7 linked regions of the Homo sapiens genome follow. The protein of the gene in region 3 interacts with the protein of the main gene of each other region in a biochemical or structural test. Each region holds a gene or a part of one and is shown on either strand. Other genes may lie near its edges. The genes, in order: TMIGD1, SLC6A3, SHANK1, ARVCF, TMEM225B, SLC5A12 and SSTR2.

What was found.
Region 1: the proteins of SHANK1 (region 3) and TMIGD1 interact in a test that uses a peptide from one of them, tested with the Homo sapiens proteins (one large-scale study listed by IntAct).
Region 2: the proteins of SHANK1 (region 3) and SLC6A3 interact in a test that uses a peptide from one of them, tested with the Homo sapiens proteins (one large-scale study listed by IntAct).
Region 4: the proteins of SHANK1 (region 3) and ARVCF interact in a test that uses a peptide from one of them, tested with the Homo sapiens proteins (one large-scale study listed by IntAct).
Region 5: the proteins of SHANK1 (region 3) and TMEM225B interact in a test that uses a peptide from one of them, tested with the Homo sapiens proteins (one large-scale study listed by IntAct).
Region 6: the proteins of SHANK1 (region 3) and SLC5A12 interact in a test that uses a peptide from one of them, tested with the Homo sapiens proteins (one large-scale study listed by IntAct).
Region 7: the proteins of SHANK1 (region 3) and SSTR2 form a complex in vitro, tested with the Homo sapiens proteins (one study listed by BioGRID).

What each region holds. Positions count from the first base shown.
Region 1 is NC_000017.11:30,316,644-30,320,914, reverse strand, and holds part of TMIGD1 (transmembrane and immunoglobulin domain-containing protein 1 isoform 1 precursor), read left to right. Parts: intron 1-2,001; coding exon 2,002-2,105; intron 2,106-3,681; coding exon 3,682-3,722; intron 3,723-4,224; coding exon 4,225-4,228; 3' UTR 4,229-4,271. UniProt on the Homo sapiens protein: May control cell-cell adhesion, cell migration and proliferation, cell morphology, and protects renal epithelial cells from oxidative cell injury to promote cell survival.
Region 2 is NC_000005.10:1,417,365-1,421,635, reverse strand, and holds part of SLC6A3 (sodium-dependent dopamine transporter), read left to right. Parts: intron 1-932; coding exon 933-1,067; intron 1,068-4,271. UniProt on the Homo sapiens protein: Mediates sodium- and chloride-dependent transport of dopamine. Also mediates sodium- and chloride-dependent transport of norepinephrine (also known as noradrenaline). Regulator of light-dependent retinal hyaloid vessel regression, downstream of OPN5 signaling.
Region 3 is NC_000019.10:50,709,321-50,713,591, reverse strand, and holds part of SHANK1 (SH3 and multiple ankyrin repeat domains protein 1), read left to right. Parts: intron 1-1,477; coding exon 1,478-1,645; intron 1,646-2,104; coding exon 2,105-2,221; intron 2,222-4,271. UniProt on the Homo sapiens protein: Seems to be an adapter protein in the postsynaptic density (PSD) of excitatory synapses that interconnects receptors of the postsynaptic membrane including NMDA-type and metabotropic glutamate receptors via complexes with GKAP/PSD-95 and Homer, respectively, and the actin-based cytoskeleton.
Region 4 is NC_000022.11:19,981,714-19,985,984, reverse strand, and holds part of ARVCF (splicing regulator ARVCF), read left to right. Parts: exon of another isoform or gene 1-2,312; intron 2,313-3,893; coding exon 3,894-4,052; intron 4,053-4,247; coding exon 4,248-4,271. UniProt on the Homo sapiens protein: Contributes to the regulation of alternative splicing of pre-mRNAs.
Region 5 is NC_000007.14:99,596,625-99,601,446, reverse strand, and holds the start of TMEM225B (transmembrane protein 225B), read right to left. Parts: upstream 3,181-4,822; 5' UTR 3,066-3,180; intron 2,844-3,065; exon of another isoform or gene 2,699-2,843; coding exon of another isoform or gene 2,645-2,698; intron 1,243-2,644; coding exon of another isoform or gene 1,162-1,242; intron 1-1,161.
Region 6 is NC_000011.10:26,697,454-26,701,724, reverse strand, and holds part of SLC5A12 (sodium-coupled monocarboxylate transporter 2), read left to right. Parts: intron 1-3,189; coding exon 3,190-3,319; intron 3,320-4,271. UniProt on the Homo sapiens protein: Acts as an electroneutral and low-affinity sodium (Na(+))-dependent sodium-coupled solute transporter.
Region 7 is NC_000017.11:73,171,303-73,175,573, forward strand, and holds part of SSTR2 (somatostatin receptor type 2), read left to right. Parts: 3' UTR 1-4,271.

The sequences.
Region 1 (4,271 bases), on a different chromosome or scaffold from region 3:
CTGCACTCCAGCCTGGGCGGCAGAGCGAGATTCTGTCTTAAAAAAGAAAAAAAGGGTCTCACTATGTTGCCTAGGGTAGAGAGCAGTGGCTATTGATAGGTGCAATCATAGGGTGCTATAGCCCTGAACTCCTGGGCTTAAGCAATCCTCCTGCCCCAGCCTCCCAAGTGTCTGGGACTACGGATATGCCACGCTGCCTGGCTTTCACTTTTACTTTTGAGAGTTTCATTCCATATCATATCAAAGATATTAAAGCAAAGCACATTGTATGTGCTTTCTGCTATAAAATTTTTGAAAGAATTTTTATAACTTGTATAGATTTTGAATTTTGTTATAAATAAGTTACTCATTTGGTTCTTGAGGTTTAAACATTATTATTTAACAGTTCGGTTAGAGTTGATGCCAGGTTGCATTTTACAGATGCTTAAACATTGATTAATTTTGATTAATTTTGCTACTTTCTTTTCATATCTTGGGGCCAATCATTTTTTTCTGGGTCTCAAATATTTTCAAAGGCTCTTAGAAAGCTTGCAAACACAGGCACTATGCCTATAGTGACTGATAAATAAAGTAGCTCTTGGCCCGGTGCGGTGGCTCATACCTGTAATCCAAGCACTTAGGGAGGCCAAGGAAGGCGGATCACAAGGTCAGGAGATTGAGACCATCCTGGCTAACACAGTGAAACCCCGTCTCTACTAAAAATACAAAAATTATCTCGGTATGGTAGCACGTGCCTGTAATTGCAGCTACTCGGGAGGCTGAGGCAGGAGAATTACTTGAACCTGGGAGGCAGAGATTGCAGTGAGCCGAGATTGCACCACCGTACTCCAGCCTGGGCAACAGGAGCAAAACTCCGTCTCAAAAAAAAAAAAATAGCTCTCAGTTGACCTGGTGTTTAGAAAATAAAGGGGTAGGCTTTCACTTCCAAGCTGTCATGGTTGCTGCTGATCTCTTCCTAGTCCAAGTTAGAAGTAGGCTCTCTCTCTTTGCATGGCATTTAGAGAGATGCAGAAAACTTTGCCAAGGTTGGGAAGGCTCATGCTTAGAGTCCTACTTCCCTAGAGACACTATGCAGCCACCTACCTTCTATAATGTCTTGTCACCTGCTTGGGGCACCATTGCAGTACAGGTACAAGGCTCCCCACTGCTTTTGAGGCCCACAGACCTCTCTCTCCTTCTTAGTCCAGAAAGCTCTCCACCCTTTCTCTTCTTGCTCTCAAAGCCTTCCTCCCTCTCTTCCCTCACCCACCCCAGGATACTTCCCAATATATTTTGGACTTTTCAAAATCCAGGCAAAATCGTTGACTTCAATCTACTTCTGCTCTGTGTGTGGCAAAAACTGTGGGTGAAGGAAGCACAAAATGGTCTACTTGTTTTAGGGGAGTTACTCATATTACAATAAATTATTATTCCACAAAGGAATTGATTCAAAACCTGCCTCTACCATTTACCAGTTCTGTGACTTTTTTTTTTTTTTTTTTTTTTGGAGACAGAGAGAGTCTTGCTCTGTCACCCAGACTGGAGTGCAGTAGCGCGACCCTGGCTCACTGCAACCTCTGTCTCCTGGGACCAAGCAATTCTCCTGCCTCAGTCTCCCAAGTAGCTGGGACTACAGGCACTTGCCACCATGCCCAGCTATATATATATATATATTTTTTTTTTTTTCTTTTTTTTTTACAGATGGGGTTTCACCATGTGGGCCAGGCTGGTCTTGAACTCCTGACGTCAAGTGATCTGCCCGCCTCAACCTTCCAAAGTGCTGGGATTCCAGGCATGAGCCACTGCACCCGGCCTAATTCTATGACTTTGAACAAGCACTCTAACCCCTCAAACCTCCTGGTTCCTCACCTGTGAAATGAGGACAATCATACCTACTTTTTGAGATTGTTGAGAAGGTTTAATTAAGGGGATGACACACATAAAGTTCAAGGCACCATTGCTGGGACGTATTGGAAGTATATAAATGTTCATTCTTATTCCCTGTGTTTGCATTTCCTACAGATAAAACTGTGGGTGTACCAATAGAGCCCATTATTGCTGCATGTGTTGTGATCTTTCTGACATTGTGCTTTGGACTGATTGCTAGAAGAAAGAAAATAATGAAGGTATCTAAGTATTCTGAGCTATTTAAGTAAAAAGCCATCATCTGAATAAAGGCAGAAAGCTAGAAATATAAGTGACTTCAGTTAGGAACCCTTCTTGGCAAAGTCAAATCTGGTCTTTATACCATGAGATCTAAAATACAGTTGCTCAAGGGAATAAAAATTATATGTACATTATGAGTACAGATTTACAAAGAAGAGAAGTGCACATGGGCAAAGCCTGAATTGAAAATAGCTGTGTTGCCAGGGGTAGGCAATTGGGGGCTGATTTTCCTCCTTTTAAATTGCCCTTTATTGTTGCTATGATACCTGTGGTATAATAAATAAATATAGGGAGGAACATCCGCTCTAGATTCAGAGATCTGCATGGAAAAGATGGCATTGGCTGCTCACTTCTGGACTATAGCCACATGCCCTGGCTGTAGTGGACTGGTGTTTGAATTATAAAGTGGTTATCCTCGTTGGTTGGTATGATTCAGAATACGTGCATGCTTAGGTTAATGCCATGCATTTGACTCTGCCAGCTAATTCAGTGCCAAAGGAGAGCAAAAAAGGCAGAAAGCCCTAGGCTGAGTTCATCATTCAGCAAGGGGCATTCTCCTTGGAACACATAGCAACAGGGCAGCCATGTCTCTCAAGAAGAAATTCACTCCACCCCCTATTCCAATCCCAAGCATATTTTAGTTGTTGTTGTTTCTTTTCTTTCTTTCTTTCTGTCTTCCTTTCTTTCTTTTTTTATTTTTTTGAGATAGAGTTTTACTCTCTCTCCCAGGCTGGAGTGCAGTGCCTTGATCACAGCTCACTGTAGCCTCAACCTCCTGGGCTCAAGTGATCCTCCCACCTCAGCCTCCCTAGTAGCTGGGACCACAGGCATGCACCACCGTGCCCGGCTAATTTCTGTATTTTTTGTAGACAGGGTTTTGCCATGTTGCCCAGGCTGGTCTCGAACTCCTGAGCTCAAGTGATCTGCCTGCCTCAGCCTCCCAAAGCACTAGGATTACAGGCATGAGCCACCACACCCAGCCACAAAGCATTTTTTTCTTTTTTTTTTTTGAGATGGATTCTTGCTCTGTCACCCTGGCTGGAGTGCAGTGGCGTGATCTCAGCTCACTGCAAGCTCCACCTCCCAGGTTCACACCATTCTCCTGCCTCAGCCTCCAGAGTAACTGGGACTACAGGCATGTGGCACCATGCCTGGCTGTTTTTTTGTATTTTTAGTAGAGACAGGGTTTCACCATGTTGGCCAGGCTGGTCTTGAAATCCTGACCTCAAATGATCCATCTGCCTTGGCCTCCCAAAGTTCTGGGATTACAGGTGTGAGCCACTGCACTCGGCCGCATTTTTTTTTCTATAAAAAAGTAAATACTCAAGTATCTAAGACACTGGAAGCATCTTAACTAAGAGTTACATCTTCTTTGAGTTTAATAAAAACTACTAGTGTGGCCCCAAAAATGACGCCTGAGCCAGTGCAGAGGTGTGCACAGGACACACACCTGTCCTCGAGCCATCTTAATGCATTCAAAATATTTCTCCATGGGCCTTAAAAAGCAGGCTAATTTACTGCCATGTTTGCTTTTAGCTCTGCATGAAGGATAAAGACCCTCACAGTGAAACAGCTCTGTAAGTACTCTAGGCCGGGACCAGTGCTTTTTAAATAAGCAGATGAATAGCAGTGATATGCATCACTCTAGACAAACTCCAGAGATGGGAGGTGCTGGAAGGGGAAGGGGTTCAAAGGAGAATAGAAGGTGGAGGAAAATCTGCCTCCACTTTAGAGGAAGACAGGTTGAAAAGTTGCCTAGAATAGAGAACACCTTTAGTCCTAAGCCTGCTCCCTCTTTAAGTGAGTTTGCCCAATGTTTGTGCAACTGCATTTTATTGCCACACAATGCAAATGCTCTGGAGGAAGTCACTGGTCCATACTGCTTTACAACAAGGCCAGGAACCACATTCATCCCCATACTGCCTTCTCTTTGCAGCTTTGTTTAGCGCTTCTAGCATATGTGAAGTGGGTAGTAGGTAATAAGAACAAAGGCATGTTGTCAGAGAGTATGGGTTTTGTTTTGAATTTTTTTCTTATTGCTATGAGCATCATTATTATTAATTTCTTCATTCATTTCAGATGAGAAAGCTGAGATGCCATCGAATACAGAGAGAGTTTTGCATCAG
Region 2 (4,271 bases), on a different chromosome or scaffold from region 3:
TGGCTTGGGTAGACGCGCGGCCATGGGTGGGTGGGGGGACACGTGGCCGTGGCTGGGCTGGGCGGACACACGGCACAGTTGGGTTTTGGGTCCACGTGTGGCTGTGTTTGGGGAAGGGCCTCAGGAGGGAAGCACTCACAGCAGTGTTTCTGGCAGGAAGGCACACACAAGATGATTTTTTTGTTGATAAAAATACTTTGGGAGGCTGAGACGGGCAGATCACCTGAGGTCAGGGGTTCAAGAACAGCCTGGCCAACATGATGAAACCCCATCTCTACTAAAAATACGAAATTAGCCAGGCACGGTGGCACGTGCCTATAATCCCAGCTACGTGGGAGGCTGAGGCAGGAGAATTGCTTGAACCCAGGAGGCGGAGGTTGCAGTGAGCCAAGATCATGCCACTGCACTCCAGCCTGGGCAAAAAGAGCAAAACTCCATCTCAAAAAAAAAAAAAAAACTTTGGTTGTTATATGGGCCAAAACCAGTTTTGACCAAGATACGACTCCTCCCTTGGAAAAGTGCGTGTAGTATGGCACCAGCCACGGGAGCCTCCCGCAGGGACACAGCCCAGAGCAGCCCTTCATCGTGCCACAGTGCCGTTCACCAGTGTGAATCCACTCACGTCCCACGCATCAGAAAACCCCCATCAGCCACTCCCAGCTACTCTGGCGGACCGAATGCAGAAAAGGAATGTGCTTTCCCTGCCAAGTTGTTCTTCCCTTTCCATCCCTGGGGAGGGTGTGCAGGACAGAAAGTGTCTGACCTTCTCACTCCAAGGAGCATTTGCTGAGCTGGCGTCCCAGGAAATGTTTGGGAATTGGGCCTCCCAATCAGAGGACAAGCCGTCAGGGCAACCCGGTGCCCTTGTGCCAGTGTCTGCTCCCACCAAGGGCCCTGCCTGTGCAGCCTGGTGACACTGTCCTCTCCTGCAGGTGGTATGGATCACAGCCACCATGCCATACGTGGTCCTCACTGCCCTGCTCCTGCGTGGGGTCACCCTCCCTGGAGCCATAGACGGCATCAGAGCATACCTGAGCGTTGACTTCTACCGGCTCTGCGAGGCGTCTGTGAGTACAGTCTGCTCACTGCTTCACAGTCCACAGGGGCTCTGGCATTCCCAGGTTTCCATATGCATTGCCTGCCAGGGCTGAGAGGTGTCAGAGTTGCAGACACCAGGGTTCTTTCCTCGGGAAGCCAAATCCCAAGTACCTGTGATACAGCACGAGTCATCTAAATCAAATTACATCAGAAACTCCATCTAGACTCAGGCTGCAGCTTTGGTCAGCAAAAGAAGACATAATTCAGGGTTAAAATATTTGGAGAAAGCCTCCCGGAGAGAGGAGACTCAGCTGGGCCATGGGGGATGGGACCCTTGTCCAGAAAGGGAGGAGAAAGGGCTGCACCCTTCCTGGCAAACAGGCCCAGAAACAGAAGCAGCTGTTGGCGGAAGGCTGGCATGACAAAAATGGCAGCTCCCTTGGGGCATCGTTGGAAATCAGGTGGACTAAGTGGGGGAGGTGGCAGGCCCCAAAGCCGCCCAGGGGCATCCATGTTGCTGTGGGAGGACAATGCAGCAAGAGGGGAAGGGCCATCTCAGCTGGGGTATGAGGCAGGAGGCCGTTGAGAGGTGCTGCCCTGTGTGGGTGGGCCGGTGGAGCCAGGTCTGGGGGTCATGAGGCAAGTGTAAACCCAAGGCAGAAGTGGGAAGGAAGGGGAGAAGGGATGGGCGGGCATGGCTGCAAGCCTCCCAGGAAGCCCCAGGGAGGCAGCAGCTGACAGGTGCAGTGAGAGAGGGCACCTGGACATGGCACCTATGAGGCTGCAAAGCAGTTGGGTGGGGGTGGGGGTGGAAGTGTGCCTGCAGCACTGAAGGGGAAGCCCTGTGGAGACAGGAGCCATGGGTGCAGCAGGCGTGTGGCCCACGGGAGCCAAGGAAGAGAGAGGAGGACAACCAGGGCAGCAAAATCAGCTGTGGCCGGGGGCCCACAAGTGCAGAGCTGGAGCCAGACAAACCATGAAGTCAGCAGGGCGTCTGGACCCCAGAAAGGCCAAAATGAAGCCAAGGGGTGTGTTTGCAGGACCATGGCATGTTACAGAATCAAAGAAAAATACCACAAGGACAACGTAGAGCCTAGTGCTCCAGCTAGGAAGAATAGGCAGCCCCAGGAGGAGGCAAAACAAACACCAGTGCATGTGAAAAGATGCTCACTGGAGAACAAATTACAAAGATGAGATGTCAGAAATTAGGTGGAGACAGTGAATAGATTGGATGGATGGATGGATGGATGGATGGATGGATGGATGGATGGATGAATGCTAGGTAAGTAGGTGGATAGGATGGATGGATGATAGGTGGGTAGATAGAATGGATAGATAGGATGGGTGGATGGAAGGCTGGCTGGCTGGATGTATGGATAATGGATGGGTGGATGGAGGAATGGATGATAGGTAGGTAGCTGGATAGTATGGATGGATGGATGATGGATGGATGGATGGATGGATGAATGGATGATGCATGGGTGAATGGGTGGATGAATGATAGGTAGCTAGATAGGATGGACAGATGGATAATGGATGGATGATGGATGGGATGGATGGGTGGATGGATGATGGGTGGATTGCTGGATGATGGATGGCTGGGTGGATGGATGAATGATAGGTAGGTAGCTGGATAGCATGGATGGATGGATGGATGGATGATGAATGGATGATGGATGGGTGAATGGGTGGATGAATGATAGGTAGGTAGCTAGATAGGATGGATGGATGGATGGATAATGGATGGATGACGGGTGGGTGGATGGATGATGGGTGGATTGCTGGATGATGGATGTTTGGGTGGATGGATGAATGATAGGTAGGTAGCTGGACAGCATGGATGGATGGATGGATGATGGATGGGTGGGTGGATGGATGGATGGATGGATGATGGGTGGATTGGTGGATGATGGACAGATGGGTGGATGGATGAATGATAGGTAGCTGGATAGCATGGATGGATGGATCGATGATGGATGGGTGGATGGATGGATGATGGATGGGTGGATGGATGGATGATAGGTAGGTAGATAGGATGGATATACAATAGGATGGATGGAGATAGATACATACACACACATGTACTTCATATATTCATAGATGATAGACAGTTGATAGATTATAGAGATGACAGATAGATGATAGATTGGTGATGGATTGATAGATGACAGTGATAGATGATAGATAGATAGATGATTGATTGATAGATAATAGATGATGGATTGATGTATAGTGAAGAGAAATCAGGAAAGAAATGGAAGGAAAGGACAATTGCAGGTCCTGGAGTGAAAGTGCATGAGGTGAGGCCCAGGGAGGCAGCCATGGGCACTGGCTCTGGTGTGGCACTGGGCAGAGGCCTGAGCTGCACACACAGATCAGGGTGAGGAGGAGGCAGGCGCTCCCCTGTGACACCTGATCCAGCCTGCAGCTACCTGGCCAGGCAGGTGGCTGATGACCAGCATGGGAGCCACATCAGGGTATGAGCCTCTCCACCCACTGCCCACCCAGCCACTCTCGGCTTGGCTCCTCCCCTCATGCTGAAACACTGGCCACCTGCAGAGTCCTGACTGCGGGGCCTGGCCATCTGCCTCCAAACACACTGTCCCAGGAACTGGGGTTGCCTTGAGGCTCTGACATGCTGCCCAAAGGACAGAGGGCCCCGCCCCCTCTGCAGCACCCAGTTCCCTTGCTCAGTCAAGCTCAGGCAAGCTTGACCTGGGACCTGGGATGCCCTGAGACCCACCTGGCCTCCCCAGCAGGAGCATCTGGTGTCTCTGCCTCAGCATCCTGGCCCACAGGCCTGTACCATGGGCTCCAGGGACTTGCAGGAACAGCCCTAACTGACCAGTCCCTCAAATGCCTCCAAGGGGGGGTTGGCTGCTCCTTCTCCCCCATCCAAGGCCCAGGGAAGGGCAAGGTGGGCATCTGAGTCACTGAATGGTCTCCGCAGTGCCCTCACCTTAGCAGGTTGTGGCTGACTTTTTAAAATACCACAATGGTCCAATCGTGGACCCACCCACCTTTCCTTTCACGTCCAGAGTTGTGGGTGCCATCCACCGAGTTGGGCAGGCACAGCACCAGTGTCTAAGCTGCAGGTGGGCTCCTGGCCATGCCCAGGTGCCACTGTGCACCTGTACTGCTCATGTTTTGGGAAGGATACAAAGCAGGCATTGCTGGTGTGCGTCCAATCAGGACACCATCATCATGTAGCATGTGGATGGGTCCATGCCTTT
Region 3 (4,271 bases):
ATCACACAGACCCGGGCACGGCCTCCTCCCCTAAACACCCAGAACGTCTCCATCCCCTGTGGCCCAGCTTAATACCAAATCTGCCTCTGTCTCCCCAAGGTGTAAACCCTTCTCATTCCTTAAAATACGAAGTGAGCTCCCTGCTATGCCCCCAGATAGAGCCCCTCCACACACACCCTGAAAACAGCCCCCCAGCTACCCTTCCAAACCAGCACTGCACCAGCTCCCCTCCCTCCTCTCTCACATGCAAATACAGCCCCTTCCCCACGTACACAGCCTCAAATGCACTTTCCCAAATAGACAAACCCATACACCCACAAAATACATACACAGCGGCAGCTGCACAGTCTAATTTTAAAATACTCTTCTCCCCCTGCCCCCGCCAGGACACCTGATTGCTCTTCACATGAGGGTCAGGATGGGCTGCCCCCAAAGACAGCCATTGAGAAGCACCCCGACGCACAGCTGCTCCAGCTAAACGGCCCCTCCCTTCTCTCCCTCAGATGCTTTCCTGAAGAGCCCCTAATGCAGTCAGATGCCAGCCACAAAGATCTGCAGTATACCCCTGGAGTTAACAGATCCTCTTCATGTATCTCCCATGCACACTCACCCCCAAACCCACATCCTGCTCACACACGCCCCTCCCAGCCTCCAGACCTGCGCTATCCAAGCCAGTAGCCACTGGCCACCTGGGGCTGTTTAAATTTAAATTAAATAGAATGAAGTAAAATTAAAATTTCAGTTCCTCAGGCTCACTAGCCACGTTCAAGTGCTCAGGGGCCCACACGTGCCTGCCATATAGGGTGGTGCAGTTGCAGACCATCCCCATGATGGGGGAAACGTTCTGTTGGGTGGCACTGCTACAGGCTGTCCTCACACGAGGTTGCTGCCAAGACTTTCTCCTATTAATGTTCATTATTGCCAGCCTTCCACACCCAGAGCTGTCCTTCAAGTGGGGGCAGGAAGTGGCCTCCAGCCCCAGTGAGGCCGGCCCGATCCTTGCCCTTACCCAAGCTTACCTGTCCCCTGGCTTCCTGCTGTGCCCCTTCTTTGAGATCCTGGACCTAATAACACCTCCCACTTGGTCAGAGACCCTCCAGCATCCAGACTCTGTCCTCTCACTTGTCCCCAACAACCCACCTGTAGGAAGTGGAATGGGTGGGTACTGTGGCCCCTAATGTCTTTCAATGGCTCATCCAAGATCGCCCCCAGGGGGAAGGCTGGGTGGGATGTCAGAGTGCAAGTGTCCTCTGGAGGCATCTACCCAAGTCCCACATTGTTCACACGGAATCAGAGTGGCCCAGGGAGGGAAAGGGCCAGGCTCAAGGTTGCACAAGGGCATCACGGCAGAACTGAGACTGTCATTGGCCACTGTAGGTCACCCAGGACGGTCCAGTCCCCCTGGCCCTTCAGAATGAGCTGGTTAATGTGTGACTGTCATCTGTGTTTTTCTACTGGGTTCTCTCTCCGTTCCTAGGCGCTCCTGGACCTTGGGGGTTCCCCCAACTACAAGGACCGTCGGGGGCTGACCCCTCTGTTCCACACGGCCATGGTGGGTGGTGACCCCCGATGCTGCGAGCTGCTCCTGTTCAACAGGGCCCAGCTGGGCATAGCTGATGAGAACGGCTGGCAGGAAATCCACCAGGTGCTCCTGATTCAGGCCATGAAGGGCTGGGGTGGGGGACCCAGTCCCTGAGGCATCCAAGGGGCTGGGGCTGGGAACCAGATGCCAGGGTCCTCACAGAGCATGGGGGTGAGAATAACATGGTCCCCAAAGAGGAAATGGTGGGGGTGAAGGCAGAAAGACCCTAAGGGGGCATAGGCTGGGGAACCTGATGCCTTGACCCCTGAGAGGGATGGGCTGTCCTCTTGACCCCCTTAAGGAGGCAGACCAGACGCCTGGGCCTTGGAATGACTGAACATTTGGGTTTTGAGGCTGACAGCCTGGGTCCCAGAGCAGGAAGCGGGGCTAAAAGGTGATGGGGAGGTGGATGCGGTGAACGATAGGATGAGAAGGCCAGTGCACAGGTCATAGACAGACTCTTGGCCCAGAGGGAGAACAGCCTGGGTCTGATCCATGCCCCTCGCTCCCTGTCCTGCCCAGGCCTGCCAGCGGGGTCACTCTCAGCACCTGGAGCATCTGCTTTTCTACGGGGCTGAGCCTGGAGCCCAGAACGCCTCGGGGAACACGGCTCTGCACATCTGCGCCCTCTACAACAAGGTCTGCCTAGCAGCGGCCACCCCAGGCCCCTCACATCCCCGATAGCCGCCTCCCCCAGGGCCAAGCTCAGACACTCCTCTTGACTGCATCTCTGCACCCTCCACTTCTTCACTATTTCCACCCTTTCATCCAGTCATTCCTCCATTCATTCCTCCATCCATCCATCCATCCATCCATCCATCCATCCAACAGATATTTACTGAGCTCCTCTGTATCAGGCCTGGAGCTGGGTGCTGGGGACAAAGTGTTGAGCTCATGGCCTAGCAGAGGGCAGACAACATAGTTTGCTGCTACAGTCCAGAGTGCTCAGAGCAAAGTCACAGGGAATCCAGATCCCTGCGGGAGCCCACATCTGGGACTGGGCTTGGGATGGAGTGGCTGGGGGTGAAGGTGGCTTCCTGGAGGAGGTGCCCCCAGTGTTAAGATGAGCAGGAGTAGAAAAGAGGAGAAAGGGGTGCTCCAGGGTGGGGGCACAGCCTGTGCAGAAAGCCAGAGGAAAGGGGGCTGTGGGTCCTCAGTTCCCCTGTGTCTGCATTCAGCCAGTGGTGTGTGCAGGTGCCACGTGGCGGCACGGCAGGGCACAGGGGAAAGGCCAACGTGCAGCCCCCGTGGCCCCTGAAGGGAATGACAGTGGGATGGGAGTTTTAGCAATTCAGGACCTTGGGGGTCCTGACAACCTGGGTCCCTGAGCAGGAAGGGAGTGCTGAAGGGAGATGGGAAGAACACCCCCACTTCTGGAGTTCCTAGGAGAGGAGAGGTACGGAGCAGGCAGGGGGGCTCGTGGCAGCTGGTTGGCAAGAGCCGGGTCTTTCAATGTCATGACCTCTGGTACTTTAGCCACCTGAGCTGCAGATGATCCTGGGCAGGTCAGCCCCATGGAAAGCCTCAATCTCCCCACCTGTTTCTTGATGCTTCCTGCCCTTGAAGGGCAGCTGGTGGGGGTACTTAGAGAGACAGGCGCTAGCATGACAGAGCTGGTCTGTCAGCCCCCTTCCTCCAGGAAGTCTTCCAAAACAGCCCTCAGCCCCCTCTGCCTCGGCAGAACTTGCAGTGCTGGGGATTTGGCGGGTGGCCACGTGCCGCCTTGTGGCAGCCAGCAGTATGCCTGGAGCCCAGGGAAGACTCAGTGTTTGTCAAACCGAACCAACATGGTGCCGGCACTTCTCTCCCCACGTGCTCCTGTCTCCTGCTCTGCGACACAGGCCTCACAACCAATCCTCTGACTCCCAGGCCCTCGTGCAGCTGATGGGGAAGAAGCCCTGGCCCCACAGGCAGATGGGGGTGGGGAGCAAACAAGTCCCTCCCCCTCTTTGAGGCTCCATCCTTCTTCCTGAAATGGGAATAACGCCAGCTCTTATTGACGAGGGTGAGCCATCGTGTATACTAAGTGCTCATCCCTGGAAGGCAGCCATCAGAATAATAATTGTCATTGTTACCATCACCAGTGTCAGTCAGGGTCCAGTCGAGAGACAGAAACTGTACCGTTCAGATAAACAGAGAAATTTTGGTATAGAGAATTAGACCAGGCACGGTGGCTCATGCCTGTAATCCCAACACTTTGGGAGGCTAAGGCAGGAGGATGGCTTGAGCCCAGGAGTTCGAGACCAGCCTGGGCAACGTGGGAAAACCTGGTCTCTATGAAAAAATACAAAAATTAGCTGGGCACAGTGGCATGCACCTGAAGTCCCAGCTGCTCGGGCAGCTGAGGCAGAAGGATTGCTTGAGCCTGGGAGGTGGAGGCTGCAGTGAGCTATGATCATGCCACTGCACTCCAGCCTGGGTGACAGAGTGAGACCCTGCCTTAAAAAAAAAAATTAGAATTAGACAGCAGGCAGAGTTTTCTTAGTGGGACAGTTGCACAAGTCATTTTCCCCTCCTTGATCTCCTTTCTCAGCTGTGAAATGGGTCAATAATTAATATCTACCATGCAGGCCGGGCGCAGTGGCTCACGCCTGTAATTCCAGCACTTTGGGAGGCCGAGGCGGGCGGATCACTAGGTCAGGAGATTGAGACCATCCTGGCTAACACGCTGAAATCCCGTCTCTACTAA
Region 4 (4,271 bases), on a different chromosome or scaffold from region 3:
TGGTGGCCAAGGGCTTGCTGCCTGGTGAGAGATGCCAGCCTGGCTTGTCCTGGACTCTACCTGGGAGGGCCATAATGGGGATGGAGAAGATTCATTCATTCATCCATCGGACAGCAGCCACCTCCTGCCCTCTGGGAGCCTGGCCTGCAGGTGTGGGATCCAGGTGTGCAATCTCACCTTAACTCATTCTCTGTGTGTGCTAGCCAGGCCTTGGACAGGGGAGGGGCCTGCCCCTGCAGTCTGTTCTTCAGGACACAGACCGTGGTGCATCTGTGAAGTCCGGTGGTTTGGGTAGATAAGTAATATGGGACCAGGGCCCAGCCACCTGTGCCCCAGCATCCCTCTGTGTGTTGGTCCAATCTTGCTTTTCTGCTCCCTGTGTTCCTTGCATTTTGCCACAAAAGTGAGACTGATGCTACCCAGCACGTCCCACGACCCCAGCCCCCTCTGTCCTTCTCACCTCCTTGTGAAGAAGCTGAGCCGAAGGTGCGTGATGGGGCCCAGAGCCCCTATGCTGGGCTCAGCCCTGTGTTCCCGGGACCCTCTTGTGAGCAGGGGTAGGTGGTCTACCTCCCTGGTCACTCTGGCCCCTCCCACAAGCCCAAGGGAGCTCATGGGAAACCCCAGGCCTGGGCAGCAGCCTGTTTCTGGGCCAGTCCTGGGGGCCCCAGACCTGGTGCACCAGAGATTGAAGAGCCAAGGGAGGGATGAGTGCTGGGAGGCCGGGCGGGGTGCAAGAGGAGCAAGGATGGGGCCCCAGCTGGGGAGGGGGTGATGAGAGACGACTGACAGGATGCAGCATGTGGGATTGGGCTGGAGGTGGGGTGTTCAGGGTAGAGCCCATGTCTAGGGTACAGAGGGGAGCAGCCCAGAGTTGGGTCTGAGGCAGAGGCTGTGTGGGGCTGCAGGGCCAGGGTCCCTGAGAGTGGGCCAGCCTGGGCAGGTGCACGTCAGACATGGACACTGGGGCCAGACAGGGATCCAGGGACTGCAGCCAACTCCTGTTGAGAGTCAGCCCACCATTCCACAGCCCCACCCTAAAGATGTTGCAGAGAGCTGAGCCACCAGCTGGCTATGGGCCTCTCACTACTCTACACCTCAGTTTCTCCATCTGCCAGCCAGCTCTGAGACTCCCAGAGTGGATGCTGGGCAGATGATTGGCAGAGTTGGTGGCCCCTGTCCCTGTGTGTTGAGACTCTGTGAGGCCCTGCATGGATAAGGGTCTCCGATACACGGTGGAGGACGGGAGGATGTGTGCTCACGAGTGTGCCTCTGGGAACAGTGGGCGCCGTGCCCTTGGGGTGCTGTTAGAGCACACGGGTTGATGTGCTCGGCCTGTGCCGGGCTGGGTACTTGCACACGTGTATGTACATGCATGTGTCCCTGTCTGAGGGGTCATGTATATGCATGTGTGTGTGCCTGGGCATGTGTAGCAGGGGCCGGGCTTTCCTGTGATCACTGGCTGACTCATGCACCTGCCACCCGGGTGAAGTCATCCCTCGTTTTTAGCTCCCTGAGGTCATTTGCCAGCAGGGACTCTTGGGGCCTCTGGATCCTACTGCGGGGCTGCTAGGCCGGGGCTGATGGGTGGTGCCGCAGGGTTGCCAGGTCTTGCTGCGGGGGCGTGGCTCTCCTGGACCACCCCAGCTCTGCCTGTCAGACCCTCACCACAGCCTTGGTGGGAGGGATAAGCTGGGCCACAGAGTGGCATCGGGGTCCTGAGATGTCCTCCCCTTTTCCTCTCCCGCTTACCCCCACTGCCTAGCTAGGGAAGAGGGGGTTTTTCTCTGAGTTTTTAATAGATGTAAATATATACATATATGAGGGGCTACATCCCACTGGCAGAGTCCTGGGTAACGTTTCCTCAGTCTTGCTTTATACCCTCCTCACTCTGTCGCCAGAACTGCAGCCCCTCAGTGCCTGGGCCCCTGCTTGAACTCAGATGAGCCCCGCCCAGGGCCCAGCAGAGAGAGCTCAGGGCCTGACACACATTTGCCAGATACAGATGGGGCAGCCCAGCCCCAGCAGTGATGGGCCACACAAGCCTTCTCCTGCTTCAGAGCAGTCCCAGCTCCCCAGTGCCTTTGGAGAAGAGCCCAGCCTGCCCTGCCTGGCAGCGTGCCAGTTGTCCCCACTCTAGGCCTCAGTCTATTTCTTTTTCCCAGGGAACAGGTCCCCTTTTCCTAGCCAGGTCCACAGCAGGCATTCCACCTACATCTCAAGACTGAGGGCGAGATGAGGCCCAAAGCCTTCCTTGCCAGATTGCCTTCTCTGGGGGTGCTTGAAATCCCACTTGGACTGTGAAGTTCTAGGTAAATCCTCTTCCCCCTGCCAGGCCTCAGTTTCCCCATCTATAAAGTTATCTGTCATCCTCCAAGACCCTGCCTGTGGGAGAGGGGGAGGTGCCTTCTGTGGCCACTTCTTTCCTCTGTCAGCCTGAGGGATACACCTGTCCTAACATGTTGGTGCAGGCCCCTTCCTGGACACCTGCACTGCATGCATTTGGGGGTCAAGTATTCCCCCAGGATAGGACCCTGACCTGGGGAGGCTTCCCAGCCCACGAGCCTTGGCAGGCAGGTCCTGAGGGCAGCGCTGAGCATCTAACCTGGCTCACCTCCCAGGCCCAAGAATGGGCAGAGTCTGCCTCTGGAGCCTGGCAGAGCTTAGTGTCTGTGCAGGCCCCAGGGGGCCCAGGCAAGGGACCCATTGTGCAGGGACCAGGGGCCTGGGCCACAAAGCAGGACCTGTCCTCCTGCTGACCCTGCCCTGGCTGCCTGGGAATGTGCTCCGCCTGACCCACCCACCAGGGCTTGGGTTTCAGCTCCTGCCCATCCTGGCTAGATGCCGATCCCCGGATGTTGGTGCCATGTGGCCCTGGGGCCAGGCACCTGTGCAGTCAGAGGCCCGGGGCAGGCTGTGAGTCTTAGGTCCTCAAGCCACTCAGCGCGGCAGGGGTTGGGCCTGGCTCTGATGTGGGCCAGCCTATCCTCTTTGAGCCTCAGTTTCCCCACTGGCAAGTCCAGTCAGTAGGCATGTGGATAGAAAAGTCTCAGTCCAGAGTTGTCTTGCCTAGAATTCCAGTGTCGTCACCCCATGCAGAATGGTGGCAAGGGCACCCATAGGCTCAAATCTACTGTGTCTGGTCTCTGATATGATGCCCAGAGTCTCAGTCACTGGGGGCGCCAGCCACTGGCCCGAGGTAGGGCAAACCTGTGCCTACACAACACTCAAGAATGTCTGGGCTGGAAGGAATAAGGACATACTGGTGCTGCAGGTGCATGGGGTGTTCTGGGAACTGCGTATTTCTGTCCCTTGAGGGCGTCTGGCTGGCGTTGGTGGCGGGAACCTTAGTGTGGCCACAGGAGTCAGTAGGCAGTGCTGAAACAGCCCCCACAAGGCTTCTATACTCAAGGTGTCTGGGGCAGGTGAGGGAGGAGGCCCCAGGACACCATGATGTCCCAGCTAGGGGTGGTGGTTGACATCAGGAAGGCATGCTGCAGGTCTCACTGGCACCTCCTGGGGCCTGGAGGAGCCTGTGGCAGCCAGGCCATGCAGCTTGGGGAGGGCCCTGAAGACTTCACCCCCCAGGGTCTATGTCCTTATCTGCCAACTCAGCCTGAGGAGACCTGAGATGGGGGTCCAGCCCCAGGGTCCCCCCAGGATGGGGTGCCGGGGCAGGGTTAGCACCTCGATGTTCAGAGGGCAAGAACTTATTGCTGTCCTTGTCAGCTTGGGCCGAAACAGGCCTTGGGGTGGGTGGGTTCAGGACCAGGAGGAAGGCACCCTGGTGTGCTGGCCAGCATGAGCTGAGGCAGAGCTGCTGTGTGTGGAGACCTGCACTCCAGGGGTGACTGAGCAGCAGGCCTGCCCACCAATGTCCCTCCTTGCCCCAGGAGCAGAGCCCAGGCAGCCAGGCCTCACTGGCCACGATGCCGGAGGCACCTGATGTGCTGGAGGAGACCGTGACGGTGGAGGAGGACCCCGGCACACCCACTTCCCATGTGTCTATTGTCACATCCGAAGATGGCACAACCCGGCGCACCGAGACCAAGGTATGGCCAGGCCCAGGCAGTGGGTGGGTGAGCAGGGCCAGGCTGCTGCAGCTGTCCCACCTGCAGAGTGGACATGGAAGCTTGCCACGTGGGGCCTCTCATTGCTCGAGTGGGAAATTAAGGCCAGCCAGACCCCAGCAAAGCAGTTTCTAGGCCTCTCGTGCTACCCCACCTACCTGCCTATCCATCCACCAGGTCACCAAGACTGTCAAGACGGTG
Region 5 (4,822 bases), on a different chromosome or scaffold from region 3:
TAATTTTTTAATTTTTTGTAGAGACAGGGGTCTAACTATGTTGCCCAGGGTGTCTTAAACTCCTGAGCTTAAGTGATCTTCCTGCCTTGGCCTCCCAAAGAGTTGGGATTACAGGCTTGAACCACCACACCCAGCCCTTCCCTCTCTTTAAATGTCCCCTTTCCATCTCCCATCCACTCTCCAGGTCATACAAGTCACCCCAACCTCAGGGCTTCCACTTCCTTCTATCTAAAATGATGAAGTCTGTTGGACCAGAGGGCATTGAGGCATCCTTCTAGTATTAGAACTCAATGGGAAGGAGTCATGGCTGCATCTTGATCCTGTCCTCTGTATAGATGGGAGTACACTGGGCATTCTCATTTGATAGGGGGCACCTCTTCCTGTCTACCCCATCTCCACCTGTATGTGACTAGAAGTGATCTCTGTCTCCTTTATTTTCTACCTTTTTTTCTCTCCTTCACCCAAACCCTAGCCTTGAGCTCATGCTGGTTCTTCCCTCTCCCCAACCCCACTTCCATCTCATCAGCCTTCCTCATCTTCTCAGTTTTCCCTTCATAAAGTTCCCCAACCTTCCAACCTTCCTGTCCCCACGCCTGCCACGTCTCCCTCCACACCTGGAACATCACCGTCATCCCCAGGCTCCTCTGGCCTCTGTACCTGGTGATTTGGTTTGGCTGTGTCCCCACCCAAATCTCACCTTGCATTGTAATAATCCCCATGTGTCAAGAGCAGGGCCAGGTGGAGATAATTGAATCACGGGGGCAGTTTCCCCCATACGGTTCTCGTGGTAGTGAATAAGTCTCACAAGATCTGATGGTTTTATAAGTGGAAGTTCCCCTGCTCAAGCTCTCTCCTGCCAGCCACCATGAAAGATGTGACTCTGCTCTTCATTCGCCTTCAGCCATGATTGTGAGGCCTCTGCAGCCATGTGGTGCGAGTCAATTAAACCTATTTCCTTTATAAGTTACCCAGTCTTGGGTATGTCTTTATTAGCAGCATGAGAACAGACTAATACACCTGGGTTCCTTCCTGGGGGCGGGGGTGCCTGTTCTGCTCCCCAGATTTTCCAAACCCCACTCCCCTGAAAAGTGCAGCTTGGTGCTGTCCACTCCACGCAGCCCTCCCAGCCACTCCCTCAGCAAAAATTCACTGTGCACTTACAGGTCGCCCCACTCCCAATGTAGGCCAATGGTGGGGATTCAGAGATGAAAAAAGGCAGGAACTCAGAGGCTCTTGGAACTGCTAGGGAGAGAGACACAGAAACACATCATGTGATGCAGTGCTTTTGTCTTCACAGCCCGGGGTTACTTTGGGGCCAGGTATACCCCAGGGCACTACCCCTTATCTGTCCCATTCCCACTGCCCCCTCCACTCTCCAGTGATGAGGACCTTGTCCTCCTTTCCCTGGGCACCAGTCCAGGTCCCTCCCTGAAGCAGCCCTTAGTGCCAGCACTGGACAAGGTTACATCTTCGGATACACAACTTCAGATCCGCACGGATATAGGCCAGACTGAAAGGTCATAGATATTTGAATATAAGAGGGGATTGGTAGATCCTTTTGTACAGAAGCAGAGATGGAGAGCTGGAGAGAGGGAATGACTGGTGGAGGATTCCACAGCCCATCAGTGCTGGCACAGGGACCAGAATACTGCATCACTGCCAGGACAGTCTCACCAGCCACCAATGGCCGGCAGTTCAATTCAGTGATTCCCAAATCTGGAATTCTGTGGATCCAGAGAATGCTTTCTTATAGGCATGTGCATGTGTGAGAAAGAGAGAGAGAATGGGGGAATATACGACTGCCAACTTTTTATTTTGCCAAGAGCATTAAAAACAAAGCAACTTATCTACTGTCACTGGTTTGGTTTTTATTCAAATTTTTGTTGTTGTTCTTTTTTGAGACAGGGTCTTGTGTCACCCAGGCTGGAGTGCAGTGGTGCATTCATGCCTCCTGGGCACAAGCGATCCTCCTGCCTCAGCCTCCCGAGTAGCTGGGACTACAGGTGTATGCCATTACACCTGGCTAATTTTTTTTTTGAGATGGGGTCTTGCTATGTTGCCCAGGCAACCCCTGGGCTCAAGTGATCCTCCCACCTTTACCTCCCAAAGTGCTGAAATTACAGGCATGAGGCCCCACGTCTGGCCAAATTATTATTTTTTAAAGGACCCATGGGCCGGGTGCGGTGGCTCACGCCTGTAATCCCAGCACTTTGGGAGGCCGAGGCAGGTGGATCACGAGATCAGGAGATCGAGACCATCCTAGCTAACACGGTGAAACCCCGTCTCTACTAAAAATACAAAAAAAAAAAAAAAAAAAAAAATTAGCCAGGCGTGGTGGGGGCGCCTGTAGTCCCAGCTACTCAGGAGGCTGAGGCAGGAGAATGGCGTGAACCCGGGAGGCGGAGCTTGCAGTGAGGCGAGATCGTGCCACTGCACTCCAGCCTGGGCGACACAGCCACAGCGAGACTCCGTCTCAAAAAACAGAAAGGACCCATAACACCAGGAGGTAAGAAAAGCTGTGTACCCCGTGGTGGTGCCTGGACCAGCGTCTGAGGACCACTGGCTTGGCAGGAGGTTCCTGGACCCTAGGCCCCCTTCAGCGCCTGAGCTGCAGCCCCGCACCTCCCAGGCCCTGGCACTTAACAGGAAAGTCGGCAGCTGCTCTGGGGATGAAGGAAGTGGGCGACCTGAAGGGCATCCTGGTTTGGAATGGGAAAGAGACCTTCCCTTCCCACTGTTTCCTCCGGTCATTTGTGGCAACTTGGACTGCACATTGACCCAGGGTAGGGTCAGAGGTTCCTTCCCGTTGACAACCGTCCTCGGCCCTTTCCCCTGAATGCCAGGACTCCGCCCTTCTGTGGCCCCAAAGCCATAGGGATATTTTCAAGACCCCAAGCTGGGCCCTAACCAGGCCATCCGCCCCCAGCCCCTGCCCCGGGCGTCCCACAGCCAGTTAGGCGATGTTCGGCCTTGGGTGGGTAGGGGGACTTCCCCACATCCTCTCCCAACCTGTGGGGCCACCTTGCTCTCCCCCATACTGGTCTCCCCTCTACCCTTCCCTCCACCTGCGGCACCGTCGTAGGCGGTTTCGCGTCCCAGAGCTGGGCTGCCCTCCAGGCGGGTCACGGTGGGACCCTCGCCCTCCACTCCAGGCTCCACCGCGCTCCTGGAGCTTCCGTTGGCCCCAGAGGCCCCGGCGGGGGGTTGCCCCGACCCGGGGGAGGAGCCCACTGAGCCTGGGCCTCTGAGCGGAGCTCCAGCTCCAGCTCTGCGGAGGAGACGCGGGCTCACCTCCCTACCTGCCGCCCCGGCCACCGCAAACCTGGCGGGTGGAGGGTGGGGAAACCAGGCCCTGGCGTCTGCCCACAGTACCGGCTTCGCTCACGGGTGTGTGGGGGCGGAGGAACAGAGAGCGGGAGGGATCTGAATTCAAATCCTAGCTCTGCCATTACCAGCGTGGGGACTTTGAATAAATTTCCTGTGTCTCCTTCCTGGGTCCTGGGCTTCTAATCTGTAAAATGGGAATAATAATAGTATTAATAATATGGTGTTAATAGTATTAACACTATTATATTAATGATATACTATTAACACTATTATATTAGTAATATAGTGTTGAGTGTTAACACTTATATTAATAATATAGCGTTAATAGCATTAACACTATTGTATTAATAATATAGGGTTACTATTAACACTGCTATATTAATAATACATGATTAACACTATTAATCATATAATAGTGTTAACACTATAATATTAACAATATAATATAGTGTTAACACTATTATAGTGTTAACACATATTATATTAATAACACTATTATATTAATAATAATTGTTAATAATATAGTGTTAACAGTATTATAATTATATTAATAATTAATAACACTCGTATATTAATATTATAATTAATAATAATAAAGTGTTAATAGTATTAACACTATTATATTAATGATAATAGTGTTAACACTATTAATAATGTAATAGTATCTACACTATAATAATAATATAGTGTTTCATAATATAGTGTTAGGCCGGGCGCGGTGGCTCACGCCTGTAATCCCAGTCCTTTGGGAGGCCAAGGCAGGCGGATCACGAGGTCAGAAGATCGAGACCATCCTGTCTAACACGGTGAAACCCCGTCTCTACTAAAAAATACAAAAAATTAGCCGGGCGTGGTGGGGGCGCCTGTAGTCCCAGTTACTCGGGAGACTGAGGCAGGAGAATGGTGTGAACCTGGGAGGCGGAGCTTGCAGTGAGCAGAGATGGCACCACTGCACTCCAGCCTGGGCGACAGAGCAAGACTCTGTCTCAAATAATAATAATAATATAGTGTTAACACTATTATATTAATAATATAGTGCTAACACCATTATATTAATAATATAGTGTTAATAGTATTAACATTATTATATTAATAATATAGTGTTAACACATATTAGTAATGTAGTGTTAACACTATCATATTAAAAATATAGTGTTAGTAGTATTAACTCTCATATTAATAACAGTGTTAACACTATTATATTACTAATATAGTGTCAATAGTATTAACATTATTATATTAATAGTAGCACACTGTGATATTACTAATATCTGTAATGTTAATGATATTCAGTGTTAGCACACTGTGGTATTACTAACATCTATGATATTCATAGTATTCAGTGTTAGCACACTGTGATATTACTAATATTTGTGACATTAATAATATCCAGCGTTAGCACACTGTTAACACACTGTGATATTACTAATATCTATATTATCTATCATATTAGTGATATCCAGTGTTAGCACACTGTATTAACACACTGTGATAT
Region 6 (4,271 bases), on a different chromosome or scaffold from region 3:
TAAGGCTAACTAATCAGAAGCCACCAATGAACTTATTGTTATCTAGTTAGGAAATTTCCAACAAGAAAGGCCAAGTAATAAAATTATATAGCTGTAATCAATCAATATGTGTACACACATACACACACATTTCTGTATATAAATCTTAAAACCTGATTTAGTAAAGTAGTTTAATTCAAGAAAAATGAACACAATCCCATTCCTATAGTTGCCTGGAACTTGGAATTTGTTGTACTAGTATTTAGTGAGTATGAAAGCTGTCAGAAAAGGAGGCATACTCATGAAGACAGAAATGTACATAATTTCCTAACAAATGTACATAATTTTCTAATATTCAGGACTGCCATTCCTGGTTCCACTCATGCCAACTCCCATGAAGGGATTAGGACTGTGATAGTAATTTTGTGAGAATAATGAAAGATGAAAAAATAAAAATTCTCTTTAGAAAAGGGTTCCCTGAGAGAATCTAAGGTGATAGGGTTAATAAAATTCAGGAGAGAGAAATCAGTTCAGATGTTTGGTATAGTTGCAGTGCACAGAGCTGGAGGGGAGATTGCTGTAGTGAGAAAATGGTGAGGGGGGTCCCATCTGTCACACAGCTGGAGCCTTGAGGGCACTCAGGGGCATCTGGAAGCCACTCAGAGCCAGCTGCTGACTGACTGTCACTTAGGAGGCTCTGAAGATGTTGATGAGATGTTCTGCTTTTGTTCCATTATCTGAGAGCCTAATGTAATTAAGACATTCCATGCGGCTTAGAAAAATCTCTGGTACTTGAGGAAAATAAATCCTGCAAAATAGGTAAGTAAAAATAGATCCATAAAGTTCACACTAAAAGTGGGCATGGGTTAGAATCAGGAGTGGCTCATATACATGCATTTGGTTTCATGACCAGAAATGTGATTAGTCACCAAAGACAACTTAATCTAAAGCCAAATCTTCCTTGCACCTAGAAATAGTATCACTTACTGAGACACTTACATGTGCTTCCTGGAAGCTAACTGTGTTTCTAATCCCTTGTTTATCTTTCAGGTCTGCTGGTAGCAAATGGTGCTATGAGGGTAGAAGGAGTTGATGCAGGGTATCACGTCCCATCTCCCAGTTACGATGAGCACATCTACACACAGTTGCATTTCCATTTCCACTTCCTTAGTTTATTTTCCCCATATCTCTATCAGATCTAAAATTATCTGATTTATTTATTTATTTATTTATTTATTTTCAGTGTTCATTACCTGCTTCTAATCCCAAAATGTAATCTCCATGAGGTTGTCTTCTGCATTGCTTCCTGCTATAGCTACAATACCTAGAAGAGGGCCTGGTACAGAGAGTTGCCCAATAAATACTTTCTGAATGGATCAATGAAAAAGCCTATTTTACAAACAGAAGAATTAGCCCTGTATAGAACCCAAGTCCATTTTAAATGAGAAACGAATTCAAAATACAATGACTTTAATATTCTATTTCCACTGGTTTCTCATTTCACATAGTTGACTGATGAACTTATAAGATTGTTCTGGATAATGTATGACTGTCCTCTGTATGGCTATATAACCTCCACATATTTTTACAGAGTATAACTCATTAAATCCTCATAATCCTATAATAAAAAGTAAGGCAGTTATGTTACATTCTTTTTACAGATGATATAACTGACTCAGAGTGTTATGTGATTTGTCTAAAGTCACACAGTTGTTAAGGATAAAGACTTTTAACTCCAGGTCCAATGGTATATTTTAAAAAGAAACAGTGTAAAAAATGCAGTTATGTAGTAAAGAATTTCTACCATTAATTTCTTCAATCATTTCATTATTTCTTACCAAAAAAATAATTTTATATTTGCTATATGCTGGAACTGTTCAGTGCTCTGGGAACACAAAACAATAATACATGAATAAATATAGAATTTCAGATCATAAATACTATAGTGACATAAATAATTATAAGGAGTAGAAACTGACAAGAGAGCAGGAAGTGACTGTTACAAATAAGGATGAGCAGGAAAGTCTCTCTAGCCAGCCAGAGCAAAGGCTTGAATAGAGTTGGCCTGAAGGTTGGAGACAGCAAGAGTACAACTAATGCAATTATCGGTATTGCTCATTTTATGTAGCAATTGTATTCCCAAAGCCCACCAAGAAAAACAAACAAACACATAAAAATCATTGCATTGGCAAAATACTTTCAAGGAAGTAGACTTTGAGATAAAAACTTCTTCTAAACTGTGAGGTGAAAACTCCTCTAAATGGGATAATTATCTGGCGTATTTGCCTTATAAATGTGGACTTTGATTTAAGGGTCTTCTGAAAATCAAGTACACCTGTACGGTATAGGTTTTAGAGGATTTTGAAATAAACGTGTGTCTTTACATTTAAATATGATTCCCTTCAAACAATGACTAGATCTTAGACAATGTTCAGCGTTGCTCTCTTGGCCTCCTGCGGCCATCTCCACAGTGAGGTTGTTTATTCTCTCAGGCCAAGGTAAGGCCAGCCTACTTTCATGTCCTCTCTGGAATTGAGGAAATTAGTAAAATTTTTACTTTCAAAGGACAGTAATGAATACAACATAACCGTAGGATACTACAAAAACACCCAGACTGGAATTAGGCATATCTGTGGGTTTTAAAATAAAATGAATTGCACCACATAGTATGGGTAAGATGATCCTAAGTTTTTTGTACTTTCTGTTGTCTTTTTAAAAAACCAACTCTAACTTTTATCTGCATTAATCTCCAAAGTGAATATTTCCAACACTTATCTATTTCTGTGTTAGCTCATTATCTCTCTGGAAAAAGATGTTAAAAATGTAAGTTGCCTTTTTGACAGTTTTATGAATTGAGTAGGGGGAAAATCACTTGAAGTTATATAATATGAGTGATTGGTATGTGAAATTTCATCCAAGAGAATAGATCTCATACCACACATATCAAGGTTTTGCAAAAACTCTTGATTTCAAAGGAAAATTCACTTAAAATCTTACTTTATTTAAATTTGGTAGTGAGTCTAAAAATGTAATGTTCTCAAGCAAAAAAAAAATAGCAAAAGTATAAAGTGTAGTGATTCTTAAAGGCTATAGAATTTTATTTTACTAGCAAAAAGACCCAAAACCCTTTACCTTGAGTACCTGGTAATGACCTCACCACAGTATGATATGGTATACAGGCTACCAATAGGCCCATGTGCTCTTTTCTAGTGCCTTGTATTTTAACTTGCTGGGTCTCTGGATCATTCTGGTGTGTGCTGTCTTCTCTGGCTTAATCATGTACTCTCACTTTAAAGACTGTGACCCTTGGACTTCTGGCATCATCTCAGCACCAGACCAGGTATGGGTTTTCTTGAGGACAGTGGCGAGTGTCTGGAATGAGCGTGCTTCTAGCTATTGGTGGATAATCTTGGCCTTTCTCTTTTTCTTCCTGGACTGCTCACTATTTCTCAAACCCCAAGAAGTTGGTTTCTTTCTTCTCTTGGGTGATATCAGCACCTACCAGGTTCTAATACAGGGGAATGAGCATGTAAAAAAGAGGGCACCTTGGCCAGGCACGGTGGATCACACCTGTAATCCCAGCACTTTGGGAGGCCGAGGCGGGCAGATCACCTGAGCTCAGGAGTTCGAGACCAGTCTGGCCAACACGGCAAAATATCGTCTCTACTAAAAGTACAAAAATTAGCCAGGCAAGGTGGCGGGCACCTGTAATCCCAGCTACTCAAGAGGCTGAGGCAGGAGAATTGCTTGAACCTAGGAGGCAGAGGTTGCAGTGAGCCAAGATCGTGCCACTGCACTCCAGCCTGGGCGACAAGAGTGAGACTCCGTCTCAAAAAAAAAAAAAAAAAAAAAAGACGGCATCTCACCTTGTTCTTAAAGACAAGGTCTGGCAGCATAGCAAGGCTGGAGAGAGTGGAATGCAGGCTTGAACCATGGCTTTGGATGTCGCTGCTGCCTTTGGACTCTTCCTACAGGTTTCACAGTTGATTAAGGAACCTCAGATTGAAGAAAACGACCCTTATTTCCACAATGCCTGCCTCTTATCATGTCTTCTCAGCATAACTTAAACATCGTGCTGATATACTACAGTAAACATGGTTTTGAAAACTCCATTTATGGAGAATATGCTCAAGGGAAGTAATCATTTGCCTTCCCTCTCTATATATATTTAACTGTCCTGCTCTGTCAAAGAGGGGCTCCTCTGCCACAAACCTGGATGTAGAGTAGTGCATCATATCTAGATTCCCTGAAGTCTTCTTTTAGGGGCTTGATTTTAGGGCTTAGTTGCTAAC
Region 7 (4,271 bases), on a different chromosome or scaffold from region 3:
AGACAAAGCCAACTTTGTTATAAGATTGCATTTTTTTCTTTTCAAATTGCTTTAGTTTTTCTTAGGGAGCTATGAGGGGGAAAAATCACTAACATGAAAGGCAAAAAATGGACTATGATTCCTGTGGGGAAACAATTTCATTCTCTCCATCGTGAAAATAAGTGAATAAGAGTGAAGCAAAATTACACCTTTATGAGAAACCATAAAATTGTTTTTATTTTTCAGGCCAGACATAGCTTCCTAATGAAAGAAAATGGAAATGTAATTCGACGACTCCTCAAAGGGGACTTTAGAGGACTTCATACAAAGCTGGGCATTAAGAAAACCACAATGCATGGCCGGGCGTGGTGGCTTACACCTGTAATCCCAGCACTTTGGGAGGCCGAGGTGGGTGGATCACCCGAGGTCAGGAGTTCGAGACCAGCCTGGCCAACATGGTGAAACCCCATCACTACTAAAAATATGTAAATTAGTCGGGCGTGGTGTCACGTGCCTGTAATCCTAGCTGCTCGGGAGGCTGAGGCAGGAGAATCACTTGAACTTGGGAGGTGGAGGTTGCAGTAAGCTGAGATTGTGCCACTGCACTCTAGCCTGAGCAACAAGAGCAAAACTCAGTCTCAAAAAAAAAAAAAAAAAAAAAAAAAAAAAAAAAAAAGGAAAACCACAATGCGTACTAAAGACCAGAAGACATTGTTCACAAAACAAAAGCACCCTCACCTGCCAATGAATATGCAGCGTGCAGGGGGTGTGGTGTGAGTGTTGGTGGGGCCCCACCTCTCGGAGATACTGCTGTGCTGCCTTCCTCACTGACTGTATACATAGTAACTGTCATATCTTTAATGCCATGGACTCACTGAGCCGCTCTGCAAGGACTATTGTAGACAGGCACTTCACACCATAAAGTGGCATTTTTTTCGTTCCCCAAACTGACATTTACAAGCGATAAGAAAAGAGACAATATCCATTTCATTGACTGATCATTTTCTAGAGTATGAAGAAATACACACCTGGGTGTCTGCAAGGATGTCATCATCTTTGGGTTTCATCTGAGAGCATCACTCAGCATCTCACACATAGATGTTACCATATTTTTAAATGAGCTTTCCTCATCCGGCTCCCTAAGCAAGCGCTGTTGGCCGGTGGGAGTGACTAAGTGCTCCACCTGTGGGTGTCCTTCTTAATGTGCTGCTTTTGTTCTGTATAAATTCACACCACCTCACTCCCAAAAGTACTTCCTGTGGCTCAGAAAAATATGTTCAATAAGATTTTGGATAGATAAATCCATACAAAAATAAAAAGAGGTATAGTTATAAAACAAGACTACAGAAAAAGTTGTGGCAGAAATTGCATGCAGGAAAATCCCACACCATTAGTAAAAGTAAGGTCAACTGTAAGTTCAGCTCAGGGCTTCCTAGCAGCCATGTTTAGCGAAGTGTGATTTTTTTTTTTAAACAAAAACAAGCAAAGATTTGGAAGAAAATGCTTTAGACCTAACTTTACAATTATTATAACATAAGATGTTCCAGGGTCCTTGAATAAATGCTGAGTTTTAGGGAAATGATTCCAAGGGACCAAGAATTGGTAGAAATAATTTCAAGGCAGAGAAGACTAATTCTACAGGCCGGGCGTGGTGGCTTATGCCTGTAATCCCACACTTTGGGAGGCTGAGGTGGGTGGATTGCCTGAGGTCAAGAGTTCAAGACCAGCCTGGCCAACATGGTGAAACCCTGTCTCTACTAAAAATACAAAAAATTACCCAGGCATGGTGGCGGGCGCCTGTAATCCCAGCTACTTGGGAGGCTGAGACAGGAGAATGGCTTGAACCCAGGAGGTGGAGATTGCGGTGAGCTGAGATCGTGCCATTGCACTCCAGCCTGGGCAACAAGAGCGAAACTTCATCTCAAAAAAAAAAAACAAAGACTAATTCTATAGTACCCATGACCCTGCAACCAGAGAAACTGCCTGTAGGGAGGCCAGAGTCCAAAGCAGCCACCTGTAACCTGAAAATGAAACGCAGACCCAGGCATCTGTGGGTCTTCATCAGCAGGATGACCATTCTAAGGCTAAAAGACAGGCCTTTAAATCTGATGCTATAATTCCATCCAAATACACAGTTAGGTTTCTACCATAGGGAAAGCTATTCTCTACTTTTTGAAGTATCTGTTTCAAAGATAACTTGCTCTCTGGTTCTCTTTTATCTAAAAGAGAGAATCAACATGCTAATTTAAAGGTTAACATCATTTTAATTCAAAAATTTTAGTCTCCATTCCATATTTAATGATGAAGACAAATCTGCTGGGTGCTGGGAGGGAATAAAAAGTAATGCACCCCATTGATTTCAGAGTATCTGATCACTTGGGTTATGCAAGCTGCTACTTACCCGCCATTAGCATGGGTAGTTAAGTGCTGATTAAACCTAAGTGGACTCAGTGAAAAAGATATTGGGAAAAATAATATGATATTGTGGCCTATGTTGAATGATGTTAGCTTGTGTTTCAGTAACAGAGTTGGGTAATACTGGACGTGTAGATGAAGCTTTAGCAGGGCTGGGCACGGTGGCTCATGCCTGTAATCCCAGCACTTTGGGAGGCTGAGGCGGGTGGATTACCTGAGGTCAGGAGTTCAAGACCAGCCTGGCCAACATGGGGAAACCCTGTCTCTACTAAGAATACAAAAATTAGCTGGGTGTGGTGGCGTGTGCCTGTAATCCCAGCTACTCAGGAGGCTGAGACAGGAGAATCGCTTGAACCCGGGAGGCGAAGGTTGCAGTGAGCCAAGATCGCGCCACTGCACTTCAGCCTGGGTGACAGCACAAGACTCCATCTCAAAAAAAAAAAAAAAAGGAAGAAGAAAAAGAAACTTAAGTGGGGTTCATACATAGCATGGCAGAGGGACACTGGAGAATAAAATGGCATGCAGAGAGGAACACGCGGGCCAGTGGATGAGGCTTCTAGACCTGGCAGTGAACTGGAGTCTATTTGCTTACACAAATTTAACCTTCTCTCCATGATGGAATACAAGTGTTTCTTGCCAAAACTCGCAGCCCCAGCTGCCCTAGATGAGGAGCACCGTGCTGGAAAAGTGCACAGGCTGATCACAGAGACAGGTAGGAAGCAATGGACTGTTAAAATGCATGTTCCGGGCTGGGGATGGTGGCTCACACCTGTGATCTCAGCACTTTGGGAGGCCGAGGCTGGGGAATCGCTTGAGCCCAGGATTTTGAGACTAGCCTAGGCAATATGGTGAGACCCTGCCCTTAAAAAAAAAAAAGAAAAGAAAAGAAAAGAAAAAAAGATTCATATTCCTGATCAGCTCTGAATGTGACTATTCAATGAAGACAGTAAAGTTACAGTGTAAGGCACACATGACCTTTGGCCTTGCTAAAGAAGAGTGGCTGAAGGTCTAGCAAATTAATGCTTGTCTTAGGTTACCTGTTGATTTAAAAACAACAACAACAAAAACCCATAAAAATAGTAAAATATAAAAACAAATTAGTGTTTTATAGACCCTGGGGAAAAGAATTTTCAGCAAAGTACAAAAATTTAAAGCATTCCTTTCTTTAATTTTGTAATTCTTTACTGTAGAACAGCTCAAAATATCAGTTCTGTTTTAAGTAACAGAATTGATAACTGAGCAGGGAAACGTAATTTGGATTGTAAAATTCTTGCTTTAATAAAAATTCTTTAAACAGTCAAAATAGAAAGAAAGAAAGAAAGGTGGCAAGAGAATTATCAAAAGTTTCCATAGATGGTTGGGAAGATCTGATTAGTGTTTCCAAAATGCTTATCATTCTAAGAATCCCAATAGCTGGCAAGCCAAGCAGTGGAACTTATAGTAACAACAATCAATCACTTGTCTCATCCCACATTTTTGCCAAATTCAAAAACACCAAATTTCCCATCAAATGTTCTGTCAGAGTAAACCTTTACCTAAGTGCTTGTTTTGCTTTTAATATGTGAATTTCTGGGAACATTCCCATGGGCAGCCTCTAATTTTTTTTTTTTTTTTTTGAGACAGAGTTTCGCTTTTTCACCCAGGCTGGAGCGCAGTGGCACGATCTTGGCTCACTGCAACCTCCACCTACCGGATTCAAGTGATTCTCCTGCCTCAGCCTCCCAAGTAGCAGGGACTACAGGCACGTGCCACCACGCCCAGCTAATTTTTGTATTTTTAGTGGAGATGGGTTTTTGCCATGTTGGCCAGGCAGGTCTTGAACTCTTGACCTCAGGTGATCCGCCTGCCTCAGTGTCCCAAAGTGTTGGGATTACAGG